Homo sapiens: one gene and its partners. The protein of the gene in region 1 purifies or fractionates together with the protein of each later gene. This does not show direct contact. Each region holds a gene or a part of one and is shown in the gene's direction. Other genes may lie near its edges.

Region 1 (3,568 bases):
TGACCGTGAAAGCATGTCTCACAATGCTGCTGTCACTCACAGGATGTACAAATTCACCAACAGTATTTCAACCATTTAAGTCAACATAAATATAGCATTTGTATTCATATCTGAGACAACATAAATGCTACTTAATGATAAAGCTGACTTTAGAAGCAGTAGGGTAGAGTCTTGTGTTCGAATGTTCTTCATTTTTAAACAAGCACACTAGAATACACCAACGACGTGGCTAAAGTGGGCAGAAACTGCCACGAGTGCTTAGGGATCGGCCCCAGGGGAGGCAGCAGCATCCATGGTCTTGGGTTCTACAGGCCGACGGCAGGGGCGCACAGCACTTGGGAGAGCTCCCAGCCAGCAGGTAGGAGCAAGTAGACGGTGGCCAGCCCACGCTCTGTGTAAAAGTGAGGGGCACTCTGTGACTGTGGGTACATGTTAAGGGGAAACAGCCACAAACCCCTTCGTATTTCACGTGAGAGTGTGGCCGATCACACACCCACTGCTTCAAGCGTGTAACCCCCAAGCAGAGTCGGGCAGCCCTGGGACAGGACTCTGTCCAGACCCTGGGAGGGGGCTCGGTGTCCTCAGCCCCCGGCAGGGCGCTTTCGAGGAAAGGTCCAGGTCACAGGATGAAAGTTCCCAAAACTCAAAGGCTTACAGGCATTCTCAGAACAGACACTCAACGCACCACACACCACACTCCACCTCTAGGCCCCGAGGTGACTCTTTCAGATCAGACTCAGAAAACAGAAAACACGGTGGGGAGTCAGCAGCCAGGTTACCAAGGGTAGGGCAGGGCTGCTTCTGTGACCGGCAGCTGCTCCCCTCAGGAGCAGGCAGTTTCAGCCCTTCAGGGGTTCTGCTTCAGGGATCCTGTGGCACTGTGGCGAGCCGAGGCCGGCTTCTCGCCGACCCCTCACTCGCTGTCCTGACACCAAGACTGCTCTTTATTACAGCTCCCAGCCGCCAGATGACGGAGGCTCTCGCCAGACCCTCAGCACGCAGAGCTGGCTTCTGATAGAAGTGATCGGGAAAGAAAGCAAAGCGGGAGGTGCCTCTTTAGAAACCACGAAGTGCACGCGGCGTCGACAGTGATCACGCCACCTGGACAGCCAGAGTCCAAGGCATAAGGAGGAAAATGAGTCTCCTCAAAGAGCGGAAGCCAAAAAAGCCACATTACATCCCCAGGCCTCCAGGAAAGCCCTTCAAGTATAAATGTTTCCAATGTCCCTTTACTTGCAATGAGAAGTCACATCTTTTTAATCACATGAAGTATGGTCTTTGTAAAAACTCGATTACTTTAGTATCAGAGCAGGATCGAGTTCCCAAGTGCCCTAAATCTAACTCACTAGACCCCAAGCAAACCAACCAGCCCGATGCCACGGCGAAGCCAGCCTCTTCCAAGTCTGTCGCAAATGGACTCTCTGCCTTCGACTCGAAGCTTCAGCACAGCTCTGCCAGGGAAGACATCAAGGAAAACCTGGAGCTGCAAGCCCGGGGAACCCACAGGTGCCTGGGACAGAAGCCAGCCCTCCACAGGGCATCACCCTGCAAGAGCCCAGCTCCGGAAGCCGCCCTCGGTGCCCAGCCTGCTCTGGAAGGCGCAGCTCGGCCTTCTGCATTTGTTCCAGTCGGCGAGCACAGACTCAAGGGGCCAGACAACGCCGAGGCGCCCGAGACACTGGCTTTACACAACCCCACTGCCAAGGCCGTGTCTTTCCACACCAAGTCGGCCTTCCACACTCCTGGCTACCCCTGGAAAGCCGGCTCACCTTTCCTTCCACCAGAGTTTCCACATAAAATCTCATCTACAAAGGGGCTTGGGGCCATTTCCCCTTACATGCACCCCACAATCCCAGAGTACCCGCCTCACTTTTACACAGAGCACGGGCTGGCCACCATCTACTCGCCTTACCTGCTGGCTGGGAGCTCGCCTGAGTGTGACGCACCCCTGCTGTCAGTCTACGGAACCCAAGACCCGAGACACTTCCTGCCTCACCCGGGGCCGATCCCTAAGCACCTGGCTCCATCTCCAGCCACATACGATCACTACAGGTTTTTCCAGCAATATCCCTCTAACCTGCCGATTCCTTACGGATTTTACAGGCCAGAGTCTGCATTTTCCTCCTATGGTCTCAGACTCCCACCTGTCACTGGCCTCACCCGAGATCAGAGCTCTCACCTGCTTGAAGAAGCCACCCTGGTCTATCCAGCCTCGAGTCCTTCCAGGTTAAACCCTTCGGACCCCAACAGAAAACACGTCGAGTTCGAAAGTCCAATTCCTGAGGCTAAAGACTCCTCCAAGGCTGGGCAGAGAGACACGGAAGGGTCCAAAATGAGCCCCCGCGCAGGGAGTGCAGCCACGGGCTCCCCAGGGAGGCCGAGCCCCACCGACTTCATGCAGACGAGCCAGACCTGCGAAGGCCTGTACGACCTCTCCAACAAGGCAGCCTCCAGCGCACTGGGAAGACTCTACCCGCCAGAGCAAAGCCTCACAGCCTTCAGGCCTGTTAAGAAAAGCACAGAATGCCTACCTGCCCAGGCTGCTGAGACCACAGCAGAGTCTCCAGTAAGGTAAGAAAATGTCATTTTCAAAACCTCCAAGGGAATGTTTCTGGTTGGGTTCCATGAGCCAGGCTTATACTTGCTCACACTGCTTCACGCAGTTGCTTTTCTAAGCAAGCTCCTACTAAGCTTTTTCTTGGCTTCTTCTAGCCTCAATGTTGTGAACGGAGACCCTCCTGCTCCGACCGGAAGCGCCTCTCTCGTCTCGGAGGCCGCGCCTTCCAGTCCGGACGACAGCTCCGGGATGGGCCCCCTCAACCTCTCCAAGAAATCAGAGATAAACCTGGCAGCCACCCACGAACCCACGTACCAAGGCAGCCCCCAGGCGGAAACCGCCAGCTTCTCAGAGCTGCAGGACCTTCCACTCAATCTCTCGGTGAAGGACCCCTGTAACACCCAGGCTCCGAGGCCTGCCTTCCCCGGTCGACCACGAGCTGCAGAACCTGCTGCTGCTGTTCCACAGAAGACTGGGACAGAAGGTTCTGAGGATGGGCCCAGCCACCCTGAGACCAAGCCAGGCAGCCTCGACGGTGACGGGGCCCCACCCACAGGCCCCGGCGAGGAGGCTCCAGACGCATGCGCGGTGGACAGCAGCGAGGAGCAGAAGCAGACGGCAGCCGTGGCCCTGTGCCAGCTGGCGGCCTACAGCCCCAGGAACATCCGGGTGGGCGATGGGGATGCTGCGGCCCCGGAACCTGCCTGCCGGCAAGACACACCCACACTGAGCTCCATGGAGAGCCAAGAGGCCCAGTGTGACCTCAGACCCAAAGGACAAAAGAGGACAAGTCTAAGGGATGCTGGAAAATCCCAGCAAGGAGCTAAGAAGGCGAAGCTGCAGGACACGGCCAGAGTGTTCACACTACGAAGGAGGGCCCGGGTGTCCTAACGCCGGGTTCACACGTGTGTTCACAGAGCTACGGCCACACACACGCCTTCCAAGGTGGCAAGCTACAACACCTCTGAACTGGCACTTTCACATTTTTACAAATGCAGCTGCTGCTTCTCA
Region 2 (3,568 bases), on another chromosome or scaffold:
TCTGTCCCACCCTCCTTTTTTTTGTTTTTGTTGGTTGGTTCTTCATTATGTTATCTCTGTTTTTATTCTTCATTCTAGCCACTTCATAATCCAAATGCCACTTAGATTCTAAATACTGCCTTTCTTTTAGGCTAAGGCTAAAAACTAAGAACTGTTACTTGATTCTTTTATAAAATGCTACATAGTGGTAATACTTAACATGGTTCCAAGTTAATTACTTTTAAATTGTGGTAGTTTTGCACTTTTGATAGCTTTGCTTACATGTACTAAAATGTTAATGTTATTACTCATTGATAATTTTTCTTTCTCTAATTTGGTTCTTATAGTGTCTTAAAAACGTGTTAGATGAATTGCATAGAAGCTACTAAATTATTTACTTTGCTAAAGCCTCCTGCTGAAGTTGAACCTATTTTATTACTTTTTAAATTTCTGTATTAGATATCAAGGCAACATGAGCAGCCAGGGCAAGGAATAGCACCAGATGCAGTTAATGGACAAAGGAGGGATTCCAGATCTACTGTGTTTCGTATTCCTGAGTTCAACTGGTCTCAGATGCATCAACGTTTGCTCACTGATCTATTATTTTCAATAGAAACAGATATACAGATGTGGAGAAGGTTTGTCTATATGTTTATTATGGAAGATGTGTATAAACCTAGTCTTTATTTTCAAAGAAATCCATAGAAACAGTTTGTAATTAATTTCAGACATTTGGTTAAAAAGTAGAATAGAAATTATTCTATGGTAGGGTTTTACTGAATTCACTTTTATTCTCCATTATAAGAATGGAATCCTTATCTGGATTACAAAAATGTGAAAAGCAGAGGTTTCTCTTTTAAAAAAATTTGTAGTAGATTTCCTGTAGCAATTTTATGGCACGGAATTCACCAGAAGGTAGGTTTATCAAGTTGGTTTATTACTAGAAGTATTAAAAAATAATTGGTATAGGCCGGGCGCAGTTGCTCAAGCCTGTAATCCCAGCACTTTGGGAGGCCGATGCAGGCGGATCATAAGGTCAGGAGGTCGAGACCATCCTGGCTAACACGGTGAAACCCTGTCTCTACTAAAAATACAAAAAAATTAGCTGGGAGTGGTGGCGGGCGTCTGTAGTCCCAGCTACTCAGGAGGCTGAGGTAGGAGAATGGTGTGAACCCGGGAGGTGGCGCTTGCAGTGAGCTGAGACCACGCCACTGCACTCCGGCCTGGGCGACAGAGCGAGACTCTGTCTCAAAAAAAAAAAAAAAATTGTTATAACATTATCAATATTTCCAATGTATTTTTAGCATTAAAAAAAATCTGTGTACTTCAAGTTATCCCCCATTGTATGATTTATGATTTTAAAGTGACCTAATTTATTTTTTTTTATTTGTGTAAGATTCTTGTTATGTTTAAAAGCATTTTATAGGCATTACAGAAGAAAATTCATTTTTAATAGCACATTTACCAGTATTTACCTCCTAATTTTTGTCACATGATTTCTTAGTTTTGTTCCCAGTAAGGATAATTTTCTTCAACTTTTTATATCCAGTGTAAAATGAATAGTATTTATGTTTCAGCACTGAAGGAGGGCATGGATAGTAACTACTGATATGGAATGGTCTGTTTCTTCTGAAGAAGTATACACCCTCCAAATGCCTGCTGCATCATCTTCCTTCAGTTTTCAAGATGAAGCAAAAGCACCTTCTTATCTTTCCTCCCCTCAAGTAGGCAAACTGTGATTTCCTTTCTTTAGCTTTATCAGTAAATATCATTTATCTTTGGACAGCCATTCAACAAAGACAGTTATGGACTTCGTGAATAGCAGTGATAATGTCATCTTTGTACACAACACAATTCATCTCATCTCTCAAGTGATGGACAATATGGTCATGGCTTGTGGGGGTATACTGCCATTGCTTTCAGCTGCTACATCGGCTACAGTAAGGACTTAATTACTATAGAAAATTGGTGTGAAAACATGAGTGTTATGCAACTTTATTGACTAAAACTTAAATGTGGTGGTTACTATGCATCGTAGGTGCTATAAATAAAAAACAATAGGATCTTTTACTTGAGAGGACCTTAGAATCTGTTCTAGTAATGAAAGAACTTAAAAGAATGTTGATTCCCTAAGTATGAGTCAGCTAGTGAAGAATGTGGTTCATGATGTTTCACCTGTATGGTTCTGTTGCTCCTCCTCATCCCCCACCCTTTTTAGATGAAATAATAAGTATAAATCACTCTGTGTTACTAGGTTTCTGAAAGTCTGACTACTTATGCAATTTATAAATTTTAGGACTATATCTGGTAAAATTTTTTTTTCAGAATATATATATATAAATGTCAAACTTTATTCTTTACAGCATGAACTGGAAAATATTGAACCTACTCAAGGCCTTTCAATAGAAGCCTCTGTGACATTTTTGCAGAGGCTAATTAGCCTTGTGGATGTGCTTATATTTGCAAGTTCTCTTGGCTTTACTGAAATTGAAGCTGAAAAAAGTATGTCATCTGGAGGAATTTTGCGGCAGTGTCTCCGACTAGGTGAGCTGCTAAAAACCGTTGGGAATTTACTAAAAAAAATTTTTCAGTAATTCAGAGATGACATTGAAAATTATCCGTCTTCTGTTGGTGAGAAAATATATGTTAGCTAATTTGTCATATGGTTACTTTTTTTAATGTACATAGTAGTAGTTGGTAAGTTGGATGGGCAAGAAGGAGGATGTATTTTGAAAAATTTACTAAGGTGATTTTGGTCAGGAGTTTCCACTCTCCCCTATCTTTTTTTTTTTTTTTTTTCTTTTTTCTCCCTGAAATGGTGGTTCTGCTTTCTTGCCAAGGCTGGTGTCAAAATCCTGGGCTCAAGTGATCCCGCCTCCTTATCCTTCCTAGTAGCTGGAATTAGAGGTGCTCCCCTATCTCTTTTTGCTCTAAAGTAGTGCTTCTGAAATTTTAAGGAGATACATAAACTTAAGGTGATTAAAAAACACAAGGTGATTCATAAATTTGATGATCTTGTTAAAATGCAGATTAGATTATATAGGTCTAGGCTGGGGTGGTGGCTCACACCTGTAATCCCAGCTCTTTGGGAGGCCAAAGTGGGTGGATCCCCTGAGGTCAGGAGTTCAAGACCAGCCTGGCCAACATGGTGAAACCCCGTCTTTACTAAAAATACAAAAATTAACCAGGTGTGGTGGTGCACGCTTATAATCCCAGCTACTTGGGAGGCTGAGGCAGCAGAATCGCTTGAACCTGGAAGTTGGAGATTGCAGTGAGCCAAGATCACACCACTGCACTGCAGCCTGGGCAATTGAGCGGGACTCTGTCTCAAAAAAAAAAAGGGTTATAGAGGTCTAGGGTAAGGCCTAAAATTGACTACCAAGTCCCAGGTGATGTTGATGCTGCTTTTCTTACAAACACACTGGAATAACAACGTTCTAAACTAGCATCATTCAAGTACAGCCTTTATTCAAAAAAGCTGTGGTAATTTGTTAATGCAGTTAATAAAATCATGAAATCTCTGTTCTTCTCCTGGAAACACTTCTTCCCTAAGTAAAAGTAAAAATACATGAAATGACTTTTTAATGTT
Region 3 (3,568 bases), on another chromosome or scaffold:
TCAGCAAAACAATTCAACAGGCACGAGGGCCAGGTAAATCTGCTGAAATTGATTAAATTCACCATAGGTTAGAATCAGGAATAAATAATTAAAGTCAGTTTAATTGATCAGCACACACCTGAAGCTTGAAGAGAAATAAAGTAGTTTCCTTTCGTGGTGACACTAGTGGCAGTCTTTTTCAGCACACGCACTGTTTAAGCCTCTTCCATGTTATATACACATACTTGAAGACTGTAGAGGAGGTTATGAAAACCAGATAGTCAAGCAGCCATTTCTTTCTGAACACCTTCCTTTGGTAGGTGGTAAGGGTGGAAAGGATGCCTGGAGCCTTGGAAGGCAGAGATGGAGGATAAATAACAGGGCTTCCCGTAGGCTGTGGATGCTCACAGCACACCCCTTTAGGCATCTCACTCTTTTGCCTCGATCGTAGACAAGCTAGAAGATGGTGAGAGGGTCCGGGCCCTGGGCCTCAGGAGCCCAGCTGTGAGGGCATCCGCTCTTGTGGGTGATTCTTCCAGCCCGGCGGTGGCACCGGTGCTTGTCCTTGGTGCTTTTACTGTGTTTTGGATTAAGATGGTTCCAATATCAAGGACCGCTGATCCTCCAAATCAAATTCTAAATGAGGGAAAGAGCTCATGCATGTTGTCGTTTAAAAGATGCTTGGTCATCCATTTAGCACAACTGAATAAATGTTTAATTTCTAGTAATCATCAGCATTCATCATTAGAAAGAACACTTTCTGAAAACAATATGTTGAAATCTGGGTGTTTTGTCCTGTGGATGTTAGAGGAAAAACTAGGAAGTTTCTTTAGTGTTGCAGAGAAATTGATTTTTTTTGTTGCATTGTTGTTAAACATTAGAAATTAAAATGATTTTTGAAACCAAGAAAAATTATTCACCCCAACCTCGTGGTTTTGGGATTTATTGAAAGACCAGAATGTCTGCTGAAATATGAAATCTGGTGTTTTGATTTGTTTGGATTCCTTGCCAGAATTTAAAGACTATGATTAATAGTTTATTTCTTATTATTCTAAATGTTATTTTAAAATGGTTAAGCTGGATAAATAATTCCATTAATCAAAATAACAGGAAATGAAAAAACAAATGGCGACCTAATTTGTCTCATTTTTAGCTGTGGCTATTATAATGCAAATGATGGAGAAATCACGTAGGTTGGTACATTTGAATATATGCATAATCTATTTTCAGTATCACTTTCAGAGTCTCAGCATCACAGATCAGAGTTTGAAATTCAGCTCATTTGCTTAAGCTTTTCTTATTTATTAAACCAAACAAGCATCTTAAAACACATTTTCCATTTTCTCTAAATATAATATGCTACCAAAAATCATGAATTAGACTTGGCGAATTACCCAAAATCCCCCCAGTCACATAGCCTTTGTTTACTTATGGTTTGTTGGGTAAAGGTTTTAGTCAGTAAAGCATTGTGCATAATTGGTCCTCAGGCACTTAGCATTGCCTGCGTGGCTGACCACAAGCCCTGTTTACAGGCTGACCTCCCTCTGAAGGCCGAGAGGTGCCCCGTGTGTCCTGGGGCATGGCAGGTTTTTTGTGTGCGGGGCATCGATCCACACCCACCACTACATACACATTTCCCTTGCCTTACTAAAAGAAAGAGAGAAAGTGGACCTCGTGAAGTCCCAGTAGTCAATATCCATCCCTAGAACACTGAAATACCTTCAAGAAAGATAGTATGTCTTTCAGCATTACTGAAAAGCCCACAGTTCACAGCTGCAGAAAAGAAAAGCGAAATCTTCCGAAAGCTTCTCATGTTTTGACTACTCTTTCCCTTCCAGGAAGACAAGGCGATGGTGGGCGTGCTCAAAAGATTATAGTGTGTCCACTTAATTTGAATATTTCTCTGCCTCCTTTCTTCCCTGTTTTATTCATTTCTTAAAAATGCTCTAGGGCTGCTTTATTGAATAATAACATGGTGGCCTCCGGTGAATCAATAACTTAAAGCAACTATCTTAAAAAAATGAGGTATTGGAACACATCCCTTCAGTTATGAAGAGAAAATGGGCGTCTCTGCATCTGGATTTGTGAACACAATTTAACCACCTAGTTGTTTGGCTTATCCCGACTTTGCAGTGCTTCCAAAATAAATATTTTTAAAGCCTTCTGAGCCCTGTAATATAAAACGTTAGCCCTTCATGGACGGAGGGCCGTCTTCCTGTTGCCTCTGGAACAGTCCATTGATGCCTAACCCAATGCAAGTCTGTGACTTCTGGTCCAAAAGAAGAGCTACCCAGGTGGATGTGCCCTGGGGGTGCTGTCCATGTGCAATCTAGGCACACACAGCACCTGTGTTCACAGGCATCCCCTGCCCGCCTCTTACGGTCCCTGACGTCTATGTTTGCTATGCAGAGACGGTCAAGGCCAAACACCCAATAGCTAACTATAACTCCCAGTTTTCTTTGGTAAACACGAAGACCATTTTCCTTCCAGAATGTATTTGGAATTGGTTCTTAGTGAGCCCTGTTGATGATGAATATTTCCCATCAGAACCTCAGAGATGTCTTCACGGCCTGACGTCACTGTACAAAAATGTAAAACAGTCTTTGTCCGTTTACTGCAGGAAATTCACCATCTACTTAGGGAAGTTTTATCACATCTCTCATTCCATTACTGTTTCCTACATTTCAAATAAACTGCTGTCTCCACCACTTTGCCCACCCCCTAACCCCTCGTAAAATTTTGTCCAGTATCTTTCTGACTTCCACTACATGCCAACTGGTAGATGTCACAAACACAGAGCCAGCTGTAAGTAGGAGTTTTCTGGAACTATTAACTAAAGAAAAGCCCTTAATTCATTATGTCAACCAGACCTTCCCCCACTCCGCCATTATTTCTGGGGTTCCTATAGGCATAGCTGGAAACAGAATTTTACACGAGTCCCTTAGTTTATGTATGCATGTTAATTTCCACTGGTCAGTTTCACTTCATCAAGATTTTAGCTGAAGGTTAATGCAGTTAAGTAAGATTAATCTGGCCATACTGTTTCTGTCCTCAGATTGTAAATGCTATTGTTCAAACAGGGATGCTTCAAATGTCATTGGAGAGCATTCTCTGAAAGCTGTGGACCCCCATTTATGCTTGGTTTTCTCTCGCAGTTCACTTTAGAATACTCCTTCCCTTTTTCCAACTTGGTAATTGTTTATGGAAATGGGTGAACACGCTCTGAAGTTCTGACAGACCTACGTGAGAGCCGTGCTCTTCTTTTTGTTTGTATGACCCCCAAATTCAGCCTTGTTTTGGAACTACCGTTCACTTGTAAATCTGCTTTGTACTATACAGTTTTACAATCTGGCCGCCTCCTCATCTTGCCAACTTGTAACCTTCTCTCCAGAGCTGGTTCAGACACTATCATCTGCCATTCTTACATGTGAAACCATTAGAGAAGCCTAATGATCCTTTCTAAATCACACTGGAAATGATTCGTTTTCAAGCTGCCTCTCTTTAAGGCAGGAAGGCACATTTGAAATACTTGCTGCTCATTTTATGAAATGAGTTACAGCTCAGGTCAGGGGGTCTTCGCCTACTTGGT
Region 4 (3,568 bases), on another chromosome or scaffold:
GCATTGTGTGCCTAAATCTGAGCTGCTTCTTGGATAGAAACCTTCGGGTTTTCCCTTAGTGCTCCCCTTGGGGTCCCTTTCAAAGCCCCCCACCCCCCACTGCATGCTCAGGGAGGAGGGTTCTCTGGACAGAGGTGTGAATTGTGTCTCTAGTTCCCAGGGGACCACATCTTTCCGTTGTTTGTCCCTTGCCTCCATCATCCAGGGTTGGGGAGCTGCTGGGTAACCTTTCTGGGGAAGGGGAGAGGCTCGAACAGGGAGGGAGGGGAGAGCTGGTCTCAGGGAGGAACAAGTGGCATGACCTAAGGCCCAAAGGCAGAGATATTGACTTGCCTCGTCATTGTTGTTGAAAGCCAGGAAGCCAAGCTGCTGAGGGTGGCAGCCTATGACAGGAAAGCGCCTCTCCCCTCTCTTAGGGCACCCTACAATATCAGGCGCAGCTCTACATCAGGGGACACCGAGGAGGAGGAGGAGGAGGAGGTGGTGCCATTCTCCTCAGATGAACAGAAACGGAGGTAATGGAATGGTGCCTTTTGGGCATCCCGGGGGGCAGGGCAGGAGCCTGAGTCTTCGAAGACTGCTGGAATGAATTGTACTGGTTGGGGTGACAAAATGCACAACACGTAGGCCATCAGCGGTAGCCCACGGAGCATGAGAATAGGTGTCATTCTCTGAGTGCCAGAACCACCCACTCAGTGTTGGACCAGCTGAGGGGCCCTTGAGAACCTTCTGTGGGGTAGAACCTAGGTAATGTGGGTCCGGGGAAAAGCCTCCTCATGTGGAGGCTCTTCAGGGCTCTAAATCGGTTTGTTAGAAAGGGCCCTGAGACAGTTGAACAAAAATATTCAGGGAGAAGCCACCTGCACAGTGCCCTCTATCTGCATGATCTGCATGCCTTGGGGGTTCTGAATGCCCCGGACCCCAAACTGAGCTCCAGGCATGCACAGCAGTGGGAGTGTGCCCCATGCTGCTGAAATTCTACCCTAGTCTCTGCGCCAAGCTGCCCTCGTCCACACAGGCCAGCAAAGTTCCATGGACCCTTGCCCCTCCTCAGTCCTCTGTCCATGGGGACTGACCACATACCACCCAGTGCTGGTGAACTATGACAGGAAGGGTTTGTTAAGCACCTTTTGTATGCCTTTGGCTTGGGGCCTGTACAGCAGTTGGGCCCTGAGGAAATAAAGCCCTCCCCTCCCTGGGCTCAGCCAGCCACCAGGTCCATATCTGCTGACCCATCTGTGGCGCAGGAATCACAGCAAAGCCCCATTGCCAAAGGCCCTGGCAGATTGGCTATCCTCAGGGAACAGTTCACAGTGGCAGGGGCCCCCAGGCCTGGGTGGAGCAAGGAAAAGAGCCAGAAGCTAGGAGCTGCCTAGCATTGAATGCCAGCTCTGCCACCTGCTAGGTGAGTGCTCTTGGGCAAATAATGAAAGCTTCTTGGACTCAGTTTCCTCATCTGTAAATCACAGAGGATACTAGCGTCTACTTTCCTGGATTGAGAAGAGCAATAAGCCAATGCGAGGATGTTGGCATCTGGCGCAGAGCCGGGCACATGCCACATGCTCCATAAACATGGGCTGCCCTTCCTTCAGGTTCTACATTTCCTTTGAATAGTCCTTGGAGCAGGTGCAAATCTGGTTTCTCTCACCCCTTGCCTCCCTGGGGTGGCCCTAAGTCACCCCGAGTCCATCCCAGGCTAGGCTGGCAGAGCATGTCCAGCTTGGCACCCATCAGATGCTCCCCCATCCCGTGTCACCCCAGGTCAGAGGCTGCAAGCGGTGTTCTGAGGAGGACAGCTCCCCGGGAGCACTCCTACGTCCTGTCAGCGGCCAAGAAGAGCACTGGGTGAGTTGCCACCAACTGGCTCCAGGCTCTAGGACAGCTCTCCTCTCCTCAGAGCTCCAGCCTTCTCTGGCTGATGAAAGGGTGGGTGGAGAGATCACCCCCAAGGGCCTTCCTAGCTGAGCCTTCTCAGATTCTCAGATGTACTTTCTAGAAAATGGAGAGGTCTGGCGGCTACCACCAGGGACAGTGAAGTGCCGGGAATGGAGAGGGCCCAGGACCCTCTGAGGTAGAGCGGTCTTGATGTCACCTGCCCACGGGCTCTGCCCAAAGCATTGCCTTTCTGCTTCCTTTCCAGCAGTCCTACCCAGGAGACACAGGCACCGTTTATCGCGAAGAGGTAAGTGTCATCAAGGGACACCTTGGAGGCCTGTTACTGGCCACAGGAAGGCCTTCCGTCAGCAGGGGTGTAGTGTGGGAGCTGTGGAGAGGGGATGTGGATGTGGGGGACTACTGTCCCTGAGCAGGGGGAGTTGTGAGGGGCTGGGGGCTTCTGTCTGGAGGCCTGGCAAGCACCTGGGTGGCTGTGGTAGCATATGTGGTCAAGCTCTTCCATTTGCCAATGGCTAATGGGGCTGGGCCCCTGACCCAACGTGGAGCATTTCCAAGGCCCTCTGGGAGTTGTTCCCCTGCCCCTGTTGCTTGCCTGATGCCTTGCCTTCTGCTCTCATCCAGGATCAAAACCTGGGCCATCAGGAGAACTTCCCCTGGGAGGTGACTGTGACATTGGAGATGGGCCCTAAAGGGTGAACAGGGCTTAACAGGGAATGATCAGAACGTCGGGATACTCCAGCTGAATGAGGGAGGGGTGTCACCATTAGTTGAGACAGGGCACCTTCTGGAGGAGGAAAATATTCGGGGGAAAGCAAGAAAGAAACTTCTGGAAACTTGAATTTGAGGGACTTCCAGTTGAGTGGACAGGGAAGGCCTCTCTCTGTGCTGAGGTGGCTAGCTGGGGACTGCAAACCCAAGAGAAGACAGCATGCCAACTGCCCCAGGCAGAGGGCCCCAGTGCACAGGCCCGGGGTGGGACTAGCTTGCTGTGTTGGAAGACCAGGAAGTTGGCAGGAATACAGAGAGCAGGGATGGTGGCAGCACAAAGGAAGTGACAGAGAACGGGGGGCGGTGGGGGGGTCTTCCTGGCTGCATTTGGTTCCTGTGGTTTCTGTAACGCAGTACCAAAAACTGAGTGGCTTAAAACATCAGAAAGGGATTCTCTCCCGGTTCTGGAGACCAGAAGTCTAGATCAAGGTGTTAGCAGGGTGGGTTCCTTCTGGAGGCTTTGAGGGAGAAACCATCCCAGGCCACTCTCCTGGCTTCTGCTGGTGGTTGGTGATCCTTGGTGTTCCTCGGCTTGTACCTGCATCACTCCAGTCTGTGCGTCTGTCTTCACATGGCCTTCTCTTCTCTGTGTGTCTGTGTCCAGATTTCCCTCTTCTTACAAGGACAGCGGTCATTGGATTTAGGACCCATCCTACTCCAGTATGACCTCATCTTACCTGATTACATCTGCAAAGACCCTATTTCCAAATAAGGTTACAGTCACAGGTTCCAGGGGACATGAATTTTGGGGGGACACTATTCAACCCAGTATGCTGTCCTTATCCTGAGCTGGAGTCACTGAACCCCCAGCCTGGGCCACCTCTTGGCCGTGATCCTGAAGGGTTGGGTCAGTTAGACGCCACTGGAAGCATGTTCTTTGAGGCCTCCAAGCTCTAGGGCAGCC

What was found.
Region 2: the proteins of ZNF750 (region 1) and LRBA purify together in Homo sapiens (affinity purification with mass spectrometry, with the first as the bait; one study listed by BioGRID). This does not show direct contact.
Region 3: the proteins of ZNF750 (region 1) and ZNF516 purify together in Homo sapiens (affinity purification with mass spectrometry, with the first as the bait; one study listed by BioGRID). This does not show direct contact.
Region 4: the proteins of ZNF750 (region 1) and ZNF185 purify together in Homo sapiens (affinity purification with mass spectrometry, with the first as the bait; one study listed by BioGRID). This does not show direct contact.

What each region holds. Positions count from the first base shown.
Region 1 is NC_000017.11:82,830,022-82,833,589, reverse strand, and holds part of ZNF750 (zinc finger protein 750), read left to right. Parts: intron 1-953; 5' UTR 954-1,135; coding exon 1,136-2,571; intron 2,572-2,712; coding exon 2,713-3,448; 3' UTR 3,449-3,568. UniProt on the Homo sapiens protein: Transcription factor involved in epidermis differentiation. Required for terminal epidermal differentiation: acts downstream of p63/TP63 and activates expression of late epidermal differentiation genes.
Region 2 is NC_000004.12:150,847,773-150,851,340, reverse strand, and holds part of LRBA (lipopolysaccharide-responsive and beige-like anchor protein), read left to right. Parts: intron 1-438; coding exon 439-617; intron 618-1,765; coding exon 1,766-1,919; intron 1,920-2,342; coding exon 2,343-2,523; intron 2,524-3,568. UniProt on the Homo sapiens protein: Involved in coupling signal transduction and vesicle trafficking to enable polarized secretion and/or membrane deposition of immune effector molecules. Involved in phagophore growth during mitophagy by regulating ATG9A trafficking to mitochondria.
Region 3 is NC_000018.10:76,362,686-76,366,253, reverse strand, and holds part of ZNF516 (zinc finger protein 516), read left to right. Parts: intron 1-3,568. UniProt on the Homo sapiens protein: Transcriptional regulator that binds to the promoter and activates the transcription of genes promoting brown adipose tissue (BAT) differentiation.
Region 4 is NC_000023.11:152,918,567-152,922,134, forward strand, and holds part of ZNF185 (zinc finger protein 185), read left to right. Parts: intron 1-416; coding exon 417-515; intron 516-1,761; coding exon 1,762-1,845; intron 1,846-2,140; coding exon 2,141-2,182; intron 2,183-3,568. UniProt on the Homo sapiens protein: May be involved in the regulation of cellular proliferation and/or differentiation.